Homo sapiens: one gene and its partner. Each later gene encodes a partner of the first gene's protein in a complex. Each region holds a gene or a part of one and is shown on either strand. Other genes may lie near its edges.

What was found. The genes of interacting proteins can lie anywhere in the genome.
Region 2: SUPT7L (region 1) and TADA3 share a complex: the UniProt entries of both Homo sapiens proteins name them as parts of the STAGA transcription coactivator-HAT complex.

What each region holds. Positions count from the first base shown.
Region 1 is NC_000002.12:27,656,351-27,661,356, forward strand, and holds part of SUPT7L (STAGA complex 65 subunit gamma), read right to left. Parts: coding exon 4,634-5,006; intron 1,320-4,633; coding exon 995-1,319; intron 1-994.
Region 2 is NC_000003.12:9,785,086-9,790,091, forward strand, and holds part of TADA3 (transcriptional adapter 3), read right to left. Parts: exon of another isoform or gene 4,879-5,006; coding exon 4,628-4,878; exon of another isoform or gene 4,530-4,627; coding exon 4,424-4,529; exon of another isoform or gene 2,720-4,423; coding exon of another isoform or gene 2,643-2,719; intron 2,256-2,642; coding exon 2,114-2,255; intron 2,025-2,113; coding exon 1,921-2,024; intron 341-1,920; coding exon 231-340; intron 1-230. UniProt on the Homo sapiens protein: Functions as a component of the PCAF complex. The PCAF complex is capable of efficiently acetylating histones in a nucleosomal context. The PCAF complex could be considered as the human version of the yeast SAGA complex.

The DNA.
Region 1 (5,006 bases):
GCAAAATCATCACCCCCCACCAACCCATCCTCCAGGCAATATCATTTTACTCTGTTTTTTTCATAGCACTTAACATTATCCAAAATTGTATTTTTTTGTGTATGTGCTTAGAGACAGGGTCTTGCTATGTTGCCCAGGCTGGTCTTAAACTTCTGGCCTCAAACAATCCTCCCACCTCAGCCTCCCAAGCAGCTATATTAGATATATATATTACAATTCCAGTCAAACCATTATATTAGCTGCTTGAGAGGCTGAGGCAGGAGGATTGTCAGTAGGTCTGTGTTCTCTTTTTTTTTTTTTCAGACAGGGTCTTGCTCTGTCACCCAGGTTGGAGTGCAATGGCACAATCATGGCTCACAGCAGCCTTAACTTCCTGGTCTCAAGTGACCTTCCCACCTCACACTCCCAAGTAGCTGAGACCACAGGCATGAGCTACCATGTCCAGCTAATTTTTATTTTTTAATTTTCTGTAGAGATGGGGTCTCACTATATTGTCCAGGCTGGTCTTGAACTCCTGGCCTCAAGCAATCCTCCCACCTCAGCTTCCCAAGTAGCTGGGATTACAGGCATGTGCCATCATGCCCAGCTCCTGAAATTGTTTTGATTGTTATTTATTGACTTGTGTTTGTCTCCCTTCAAAAACAATGTAAACTCAGGTAACTTAGTAACTGCTGAATCCCACAATGCTCGACTCTCAACAGGCACTCAATAAATACTTGTTGAATAAAATCAGACTAACTGCATTCTCTCAGATTCCATATACTTGTGGATAGTTTCTTCCAGAGGAAGTATCAGTGAATGTGGCCATTCACTGACTAAAGGAGACCCATGGTATTTGGCCAGGAACATCGCTAGGGCCATCATAAAAGTATGTTAAGTTCACTCTGTTCCAAGACTCTGTGCTCTGCACTCTAGACCAAGTGTTGTGGGATCCTGCTGAACACTCCGAGATTGCACAGACATCTGTGCCCACTTTTCAACAGGGTCGCCTCACCTGTAGCATGTAACTGTGATAGTCCTTGATGCGGTGCTGCCAGAACTTCTGGAGGGAGAGCACACTGCCAATACCCACTTCATGGAATACCTGCTCCATCACATCAGGAAAAGGAGTCTGTCCCAGCCGGGCCTCCCGGTCCACAGCAAAACGCAGCAACTTGGTAAACTTAAGGCAATACTCATGTGCCACATCAGTTAGGGTCTCCAGGACACTCTCATTAGCACAGTCAAAGCCCGCGTGGGCCAGGATTGTGGCCACTGCCTGGTAGAGGAGCTGCCGACAGGAGTGCCAGCTGAGTTCAGTCACAGGTTCCCCTTTCCCACTGAAAGTGGAGATACGGTGGTGTTATTAATGTTCTTGCAAAGGGGTGACCCCTCCTGTCTTCCCCAGGAGTTTTACAATTCCAGTCAAGCCACTGGCCTAGCTTTCCAGGGAAATTCCATCCAAGTTACATAGCTCAGTTTCATCCTGCTGCTATCTGGGCATGTCTTAGCAACCCATGGTCATATCTTTGAGCTCCTCCAAAGACATAGTTTGAATAGGCAATACATGTCTATAATACACAATCCAAAAGGATATCTAGTGAAAAGAAAGTTTCCTTCTAGCAACTGTTCAATTTTGATCACTTTTAGGATTAAGTTTAACAGTATAGCCCAGACACTGCTCAATGATGCTCTAATTATTTTACCATAACCTAGTTTTCATACATGCTGGGCAATATATTAATACAAACTTTTAGAAATTCACAGTTCCAATAAAGAGATTCTTCACAGTTCCCAGGAGTTTAAGATTCTTAGATTCTTATAAAGTTACAAGGGACCATTTCAAAACAGGGAAGTCAACTCAATTTTATAAAAGCAATTTAAAACATATATAGCTTACAAAGCATTTTCATCCTATCCTGTGTTGTGCAATGGGTAGGGTCTGTATTATTATTATTTCTATTTGCCAGGAGAGGAAACAGGTTTAGAAGGGCTGACTTGCCAAAATTTGTTTACATATAATTAGTAAGTGGTAAAGCTTCTGACTCCAGAAACCGTATCCTGCATAATACACCATTTTGCCCCTAATCACTACTGCAGAAATCTTAATTTTCCAAGAAAAAAATTAAGAAAGCTATTTGATCTAAAAATAACTTAAGAAGCTTTTAATAATTTACCTGTCTCTTGAAATTTCCTACTGGCTTCTGCCTACCCCTGACAAAGGAATTTATTTTACCAATAAAAATAAAATAGAGCACAGAAAATCATTTTTCCTTGGTTCGTACTTGGCATGTGTCATCACGCACTGTACAAAAGTGCCTGAGTGGTTATCCACCCACTAAACTCTGACCTGTTCAATAGCAACTATTGCAGTTTACATAATAGTTTGACAATAAGATAACTAATTGCCAAGTAACTTTTCATTTACTATCTTCATCATTTCCATGGCCAGTGTCTCTGGGCCAAAAGCTAAAGGCCTCATAAGTACCTAATAAACAGAGACAACTAAACCAATATCACTTTCCTAGAATAATATCTGGACCTCTTTCAAAGGAAAGTAATTTTTTGGTGCCCCCATAACTGATGCAAATTATTTTTGTTATACAGTTTCCTAAATATGTATAAAATAAAACCAGGTACAAACTTTTGATGGTCATGGCTCTTACTATATAAATTTGATACAAAACTAAAAATGAATAAACAGCATCAATTTAATATGATAGATAACATTATATTGTTGAAATTAAATTGCCCTCAATATGTGAATACAGTATTGATCACCACAGAGCAAGTTTTTTGAGTTGGGCGTGTCTATGCTAGCATATGCTGTGCATGTAATAACACAGTTATGCCTCCCCTTTTCATTATTCCAGTGACTTCAGAACCTTTGATTACAATGGACCTTGATATAATCTGGCCTTCACCTGGCCCAACTGCAATGCAACCCCTGTGTATTTAGTCTATTTCTGTACTTTTCTCATTAGTTTGGGAACCACTAAAATAGTATTACCAGCAACAGGTAGATGTAATAAATAACATATAATATCACTTCTGTAGTATTCTTGCCGAACATATTTAATCTGAATCTAATCTTGAGGAAATAATCAGCAAATCCAGTAATTGGGACATTCTACAAGCGACCTGAACTCATAAAAGACTCTAAAGAGGCATAACAACCAGGTACAATGCATGAATCTTTGTTAGATCCTGGATTCGAGGGAAAAGACATTTACAAAAGATATTTTGTAAATATACTTACAAAAGATAATTGGAAGAATGTGAATATGAACTTATTAAATGGTACTTAATGTTCATTTACTTTGGTAATGGTATTATGATTATGCAGGAAAATTTCCTTATTCTTAGGATATGCATGCTGAGGAATTTAGGGGTGAAATATGGTGATGTCTGCAACTTACTTTAAAATGGGGGAAAAAATGTGTGCATATACAAGTATGCATATATGTATGTTTGTATATGTGTGTATATATGTGTATACACACACATATGTGAGAAAGTAAATGTGGCAAAATGTTAAACATTAGTGAGTCATGGTGAAGGTATTTGGATGTTTGTTGACTATTACACATTTCTGTAGGTTTGGCAAATTTCAAAATGAAAATAAAAAAGTAATTGGCATTAAATACAACTTGCACACTGACATCTAGTAGCAGCTCTAGGTTATAAGGCAGTCACGTTCAGAGGATGTGGAGCAGAGCTTCTCAAACTTAAATGCACATACAAATCTCCTGGAGATCTTGTTATAATGCAGATTCTGATTCAGCAGGACTGGGTGAGGCCTGAGATTCTGCATATCTAAAAAACTGCCAGGTGATGTTGATGCTGCAGATCTTGGACCAGATATTGAGTAGCAGGGATCAATAACATTTTTATATTATTATTTCTTTTTTTTTTTTTCCAGACAGGGTCTCACTCAGTCACCCAGGCTGGAGTGCAGTGGAGTGATCTGCAATCTCTGCCTCCCCTGGGTTCAAGTGATTCTCGTGCCTCAGCCTCCCGAGTAGCTGGGACTACAGATGTGCGCCACTACACCTGACTAATTTTTGTATTTTTAGTACAGATGGGGTTTCGCCATGTTGGCCAGGTTGATTTTGAACTCCTGGCCTCAAGTGATCCACCCACCGTGGCTTCCCAAAGTCTTGGGGTTACAGGCATGAACCACTGTGCTCAGCTTATATTATTATTTCTTGAACTATGTTATCAAAATGAAAACACACAATTTAAAGATTCTTGTGTAGACTTGCGGATTCCTAAAAATACCAGAATAAGTCCATGAATCCCAATTTGAAGACAACGAGCTAAACCCATAATTTTTTTTTATATTAAATAGAAAGACTAGATCCTAAGAACTATGAGGCCATGGCCTTTTTTACATACCAGTGTATTACCCTGCTCCTAGTAAAGTGCTTGGCACATAGTAAGCACTCAAAAAATTAAAAAATACAGACCCTGAATTCTGAAGACTGGCATTCAAAACTTAGATATCCCACTAATTACCTGGAGAAACCTTGGCCAAGTCAATTACTCTTATCCTCAGTTTCCTCGCATGAAAATGGAAATGCTATTATAGGCTTAACAGGGTTGTTGGGAAGATGACTTGAGAAAAGTAAGATACAGCAAAGCCTTGCCTTACCGATAAAAGTCACTCTCTGGGTCACTGTGCCGGATCTGGAATGGTGCATTGGGATTCTTACAATCTAAAGGCAGGAGGTCATCAGGGAGAGGAGGTGACCCAGGGCACGAGGGAAGAGGTTCACTCTCTTCAGTTTTTACACCTTCTGTCTGCTGCTGATTCTGGGCCTGAGCTGTGGCAATAAGGTTGCGAAGACGTCGGTTGTGCTGAATCAACTGAATCGTATGGATGGTGAGACTACATGGCTCTGAGGGGATGTCCAGCATAGTGGGGGGCTTCGGCTTGTTGGCTGAGGGTTGGTGCAGGGGTGGGTCATGGACTTCCACCAGACGGAACTCCCGTGGGAGCAAATCGAAGGAACTTCTGTTGGTCT
Region 2 (5,006 bases), on another chromosome or scaffold:
TTCAGCAGGACATTTGGGTTATTTATGGTATGAACAGTTCTGTGCTGAACAACCCTGCACTCAGTCTGTGCATGCAGACACGCTGGGTCATCACTCACACTTGAGACTGCTATTAGGCTTCACCTAACTGCCCCCAGCCTCTTACTGATGAGGACTTCCCCAGGTTGAGATGGAGAGAAGCCAACAGAAGCGGGGGCCAGACTGTGGGTTGTGGATAGGACACCACTCACCTGAAGGGCTTGTTCTGATTGCGAGGGGAGGTGCTTGCCCCGTCAGCCCCTGATTCTTTCCCAGACATGTCAGGAATAGGAGAATCCTCCATAGGGGAAATAATATTTTCCTAGAAGACCACAAAAATGAGTGGAAGGAAAAATAGCTGTTCCACTTTCCTGCTCCTTTCTGACCTACACTGACAGTCTTCAAACACCAGAAATATCCTTTTATCTTTCCCATCCCACCTACCGTGGGAAGCCTTCCCATACCAATCCCAAATTGCTTTGATCATTCTAGAAATCCCTTTTATTTTCGTACTGATGTGAAGAAAAAGGAACACAGAAGAGAAATGATTAACACTCAATGATGGTAATGAACAGCTAAGGTTTGTGAAGCGTCTGCAACGCACCAGGCAGTGTGCTAGGCCTGCTGTGGCGGAGATGCTAGCTGTCCGAATGCCATACTCTTCTTTCCTCCACGGCAGCTAGGCAATGCCTGTCCAGTTGTACTTCCCAGGCTCTCTTGCAGGCGGGTATGGTCATGTGACAAGTTCTCTCCAGGGGAAAGTGATCAGAAGAGATAAGAGCCATAGCTAGGCATGGGCCAAAAAGTTTCCTTCACACACTCCTCCTTGTTTTGTTTTGTTTTTTTTTTTTGAGATGGAGTCTCACTTTGTCACCCAGGCTGTGGAGTGCAGTGGCACAATTTCGGCTTACTGCAAGCTCCGCCTCCTGGGTTCATGCCATTCTCCTGCCTCAGCCTCCCAAGTAGTTGGGACTACAGGCGCCTGCCACTATGCCCGGCTAATTTTTTTGTATTTTTAGTAGAGACGGGGTTTCATCATGTTAGCCAGGATGGTCTCGATCTCCTGACCTTGTGATCCGCCCGCCTCAGCCTCCCAAAGTGCTGGGATTACAGGCGTGAGCCACCGCGCCCGGCCTCCTTGCTCTTATTCTGTGGGACTGGAGTGACAATTACGCCCAGAGTGACCTTGTGCAGACTGCAAGGCCACCGTCAGCTGGGGTCCCTGTCTGATGATATGAGATAGAGACCTGCCCCTTCCCCTACCTTAGATAACCTGCAACATGTACCCAGACTGTTCCATGAGATAAACTCTTGTGTTTGAGCCAGAATAGAAAACTGAGTCTCAATGAGGTGAAAGAGTGTGAGGGTGTGTCTAAGGTCAACCAGCAGGTATAAAGACAGGGCCCCTGAAGCTAGGGTTTGAATCCTGGTGTGTGAGACCTCAAGTGAACAGTTCCCTTTTCTGAGCCTCAATCTTCTTATCTGTAACACAGCGTTAACCACTGTCCTGGCCTCCAGTGGGAGGATGTGTATAAAGCCCCTCCAACAGATGCTTAGCAAAAGTAATTGTGGAGTAAGGCTACCTTTGGGGAAAGTTGGAGAAAAACAGGGGCATGAGAGGGGCTTCTAGGATATAGTAATGTTTCATTTTGTAATCTCCAGGCTGGTAATACAAGCTCATTTGTGAAAACTGTACATTTATGATCTGTGCACTTTTCTATTAGGTGCACAAGTTATATATTATTCCCAATCTTTTGCTATATATTAGTCCAGGTTTTTACTTTTGCACCAACCTATTTTTGCACCAACCTAATAAATGTATGATAAATTCCGATAAAAAATAAGCATAACACATTAAAACACAAAGTAAATATGGTTCCTCTTTTGGGTTAGGCTGCTCACCTCCACCAGGGCCTGCAGGAGGCGCTGCGTCAGGGCACCAAAGGGGCATCCATCTTCCGGCTGTTCATGCTGGGCCTCAGACTTCTTCAGCAGGGCATCCACATCTAAGCGGGCACAGGAAAGGAGGGGAGGTGGGCTGAAGTTCTGGAATTCAAGTCCTGACCTGGGGTTGGCAGGGAGGTGAGAGGCCTACCTTTAGTGTCCAGTTCGGTCAGTGGCCCCATGAGGCCTTTCTTCTTGTCAGCCACAGCCGCTGCCCGGGCCCCATCCTTCTGCTCCTCCAGCAGGTCCTCCTGGGCCCAGCGCTGGGAGTAGTGCTTCCCCAGGGGTGGGATCTGTGGAAAAGATGGCACCCAACCCTGAGTGGGTAAGCACTGGCCAGCCATGCTTCATTCATTCATTCACTTACCTATCTTATATCTCTCTCAAGTCCCTAGTCCAAGGCCAAGCCCAGTGTCAGGTGTAGGTAAGAAAGTACAACGAAGATAAAACCTGTACTTCACACTCTAGTAAGGGAGACAGGTCCAAAAAGAACTAAGACACACACACAGAAGCCAATCTGAAATAATTCCCAAGATAGAAGGTGCAGAATACGTACACAGATTGTCTCAGGTCACAGCAATTGCCTCTCGAGAGAATTAGGAGCCTTCAGGTCACGGGTGACAGGGAATTACCTTTTGTATTGCTTGAATTTACTGCTGTCTGTATGAACTCTTTTTCAGATAAATTTTTAAGAAATCAGATAAGTGAAGTGAAAGAGAGAGATCAAAGTGTTGTGGCAGCACAAAGGAGAGACTGACTAACTTTCTGCTGGGGAATCTGAAAGAGTGCTTTGGTGGAGGTAACATGAGATCAGGGCCTTGAAGGGTGAGTCAAGTCTGTCAAGGAGACAAGAGGGAGAGAAGAGCTTGCCAGAGGCCCAGAGACCAGCGAGGAGGCTGTGGTGTCCTGGAATGAGGGCGAGATACTTGGTGGGACTGGTCAACACGGCAATGAAGAGGGATATGGCCGAGGAAAATGGAGAGGGGCACTGGAGCTGTGCCAGCAAGGACTGGGATGCGTGGACTTGATCCTGTAGATAACGGGAGGAAGAAAGGCCTGGATGCAGCGCCATGTCATGAGCACATCTGATCATGACAGCTCACCTATGGGAGGATTCTCCCTCAACATTTTTCTGTATTTTCTAAATTTTCTTTAATGGAGCATGTTTTATTTATTTTCATCATTAAAACATAGTTTTATATCTTCTTTTTTTTTTGAGACAGAGTCTTGCTCTGTCACCCAGGCTGGAGTGCAGTGGCACAATCTCAGCTCACTGCAAGCTCCGCCTCCCGGGTTCACGCCATTCTCCTGCCTTAGCCTCCCGAGCAGCTGGGACTACAGGCGCCCGCCACCACGCCCGGCTAATTTTTTCTATTTTTAGTAGAGACGGGGTTTCACCGTGTTAGCCAGGATGGTCTCAATCTCCTGACCTTGTGATCTGCCCGCCTCGGCCTCCCAAAGGGCTGGGATTACAGGCTTGAGCCACCGCACCCGGCTTTTTTTTTTTTAATGGATGGAATCTCCTTCTGTCACCCAGGCTGGAATACAGTGGCACGATCTTGGCTCATTGCAACCGATGCCTCCCCAGTTCAGGTGATTTTCCTGGCTCAGCCTCCCGAGTAGCCAGGATTACAGGTGCATGCCACCGTGCCAGGCTAATTTTTGTATTTTTAGTAGAGACGGCGTTTCACCATGTTGGTCAGGCTGGTCTTGAACTCCTGACCTCAGATGATCTGCCTGCCACAGCCTCCCAAAGTGTTGGGATTACAGGCGTGAGGTGACTTTTATATCTTTTTTTTTTTTTTGGAGACGGAGTCTTGCTCTGTTGCCCAGGCTGGAGTGCAGTGGCGTGATCTCGGCTCACTGCAACTTCCACCTCCCGGGTCCAAGAGATCCTCCTGACTCAGCCTCCCGAGTAGCTGGGACTACAGGCGCACACCGCCATGCCTGGCTAATTTTTTGTATTTTGGTAGAGATGGGGTTTCACCATGTTGCCCAGGCTGGTCTCAAATTCCTGAGCTCAAGCAATCTGCCCGCCCCGGCCTCCCAAAGTGCTAGGATTGCAGGCATAAGCCACTGCTCCCAGCCCAAGTTTTATATCTTAAAGAAAGAAGAAAGGTTCCTCCAGAGGCCTCGAAACAGGAAGAGAGTTAAGAGGCTGTTTGGATAGAAGTTGATGAAGGCTTGGACCAAAGCAGAGGGGATGGGGATAAAGGAACATGGGCAGACTTCACTTAAGTAGATGCTTGAGGGCGTGTTGACATTTGGCTGGGGTAGAGGGGAGGCAGTGCACGGAGAAAGCTGAGTTTGGGCCTAGGTGTCTGGAGGCACTGATGGAGCAGACAGCAGACTGGGCAGGGTTGGGGAAGGAAGATGATGCATGGCTTTGGTAGCTTTACTTCTCAGGCACCTCTGAACTCTCTTGTTCCGCATCATGTCTATCAAGGCCCAGAGTTTCTACCTTGTAATGCTCAGCCTCATCTTCTGGGGGCTTCAGTAACTCCTCAAGTGTGCGGACCTCCTCGCTGGTGATGTCAGCACAGTAGGGCTCCACTGAAGCCCAGAACCTGCAGGGAGAAGCAGATCCTGAGTGGGCGCCCCTGCCCCACCAGTGCCTCCACCACCAGAACCTTGAGGCCCCCTTCTATGTTCTCTAGCCCAGAACCTGTTGGGGGCATCATTTTTGGGGATCCGTGGCACGTCGATAGGGTCATCAGTGAATTCATATTCCTGGATCTTGGGCTGAAGGTTTTTGGATTTGGGCCGTCCTGGGCCAGGGCCCGGCCCATGTCCTGCCTTCCCTTCCAGTTTCTGCTTCTTGGGCTTCCCATGTTTGGGGGGAGCTCCAAGTTCATGGTCTCGACCCAGCTTCAGGAATCGTCTGTCACCTTTCTTATCCTGCCAGTCGGTGAGGATCTGAAATTTACAGAAAGTGTCACTGAGGGGGAGAAGGGAAAACACAGAATATCTCTTTCCTCTAGTGAATAAATTAGGATCTAGAATCTACAGAGGCTCCTGGGTCTTTCCCCATCCTCTTTTTACCT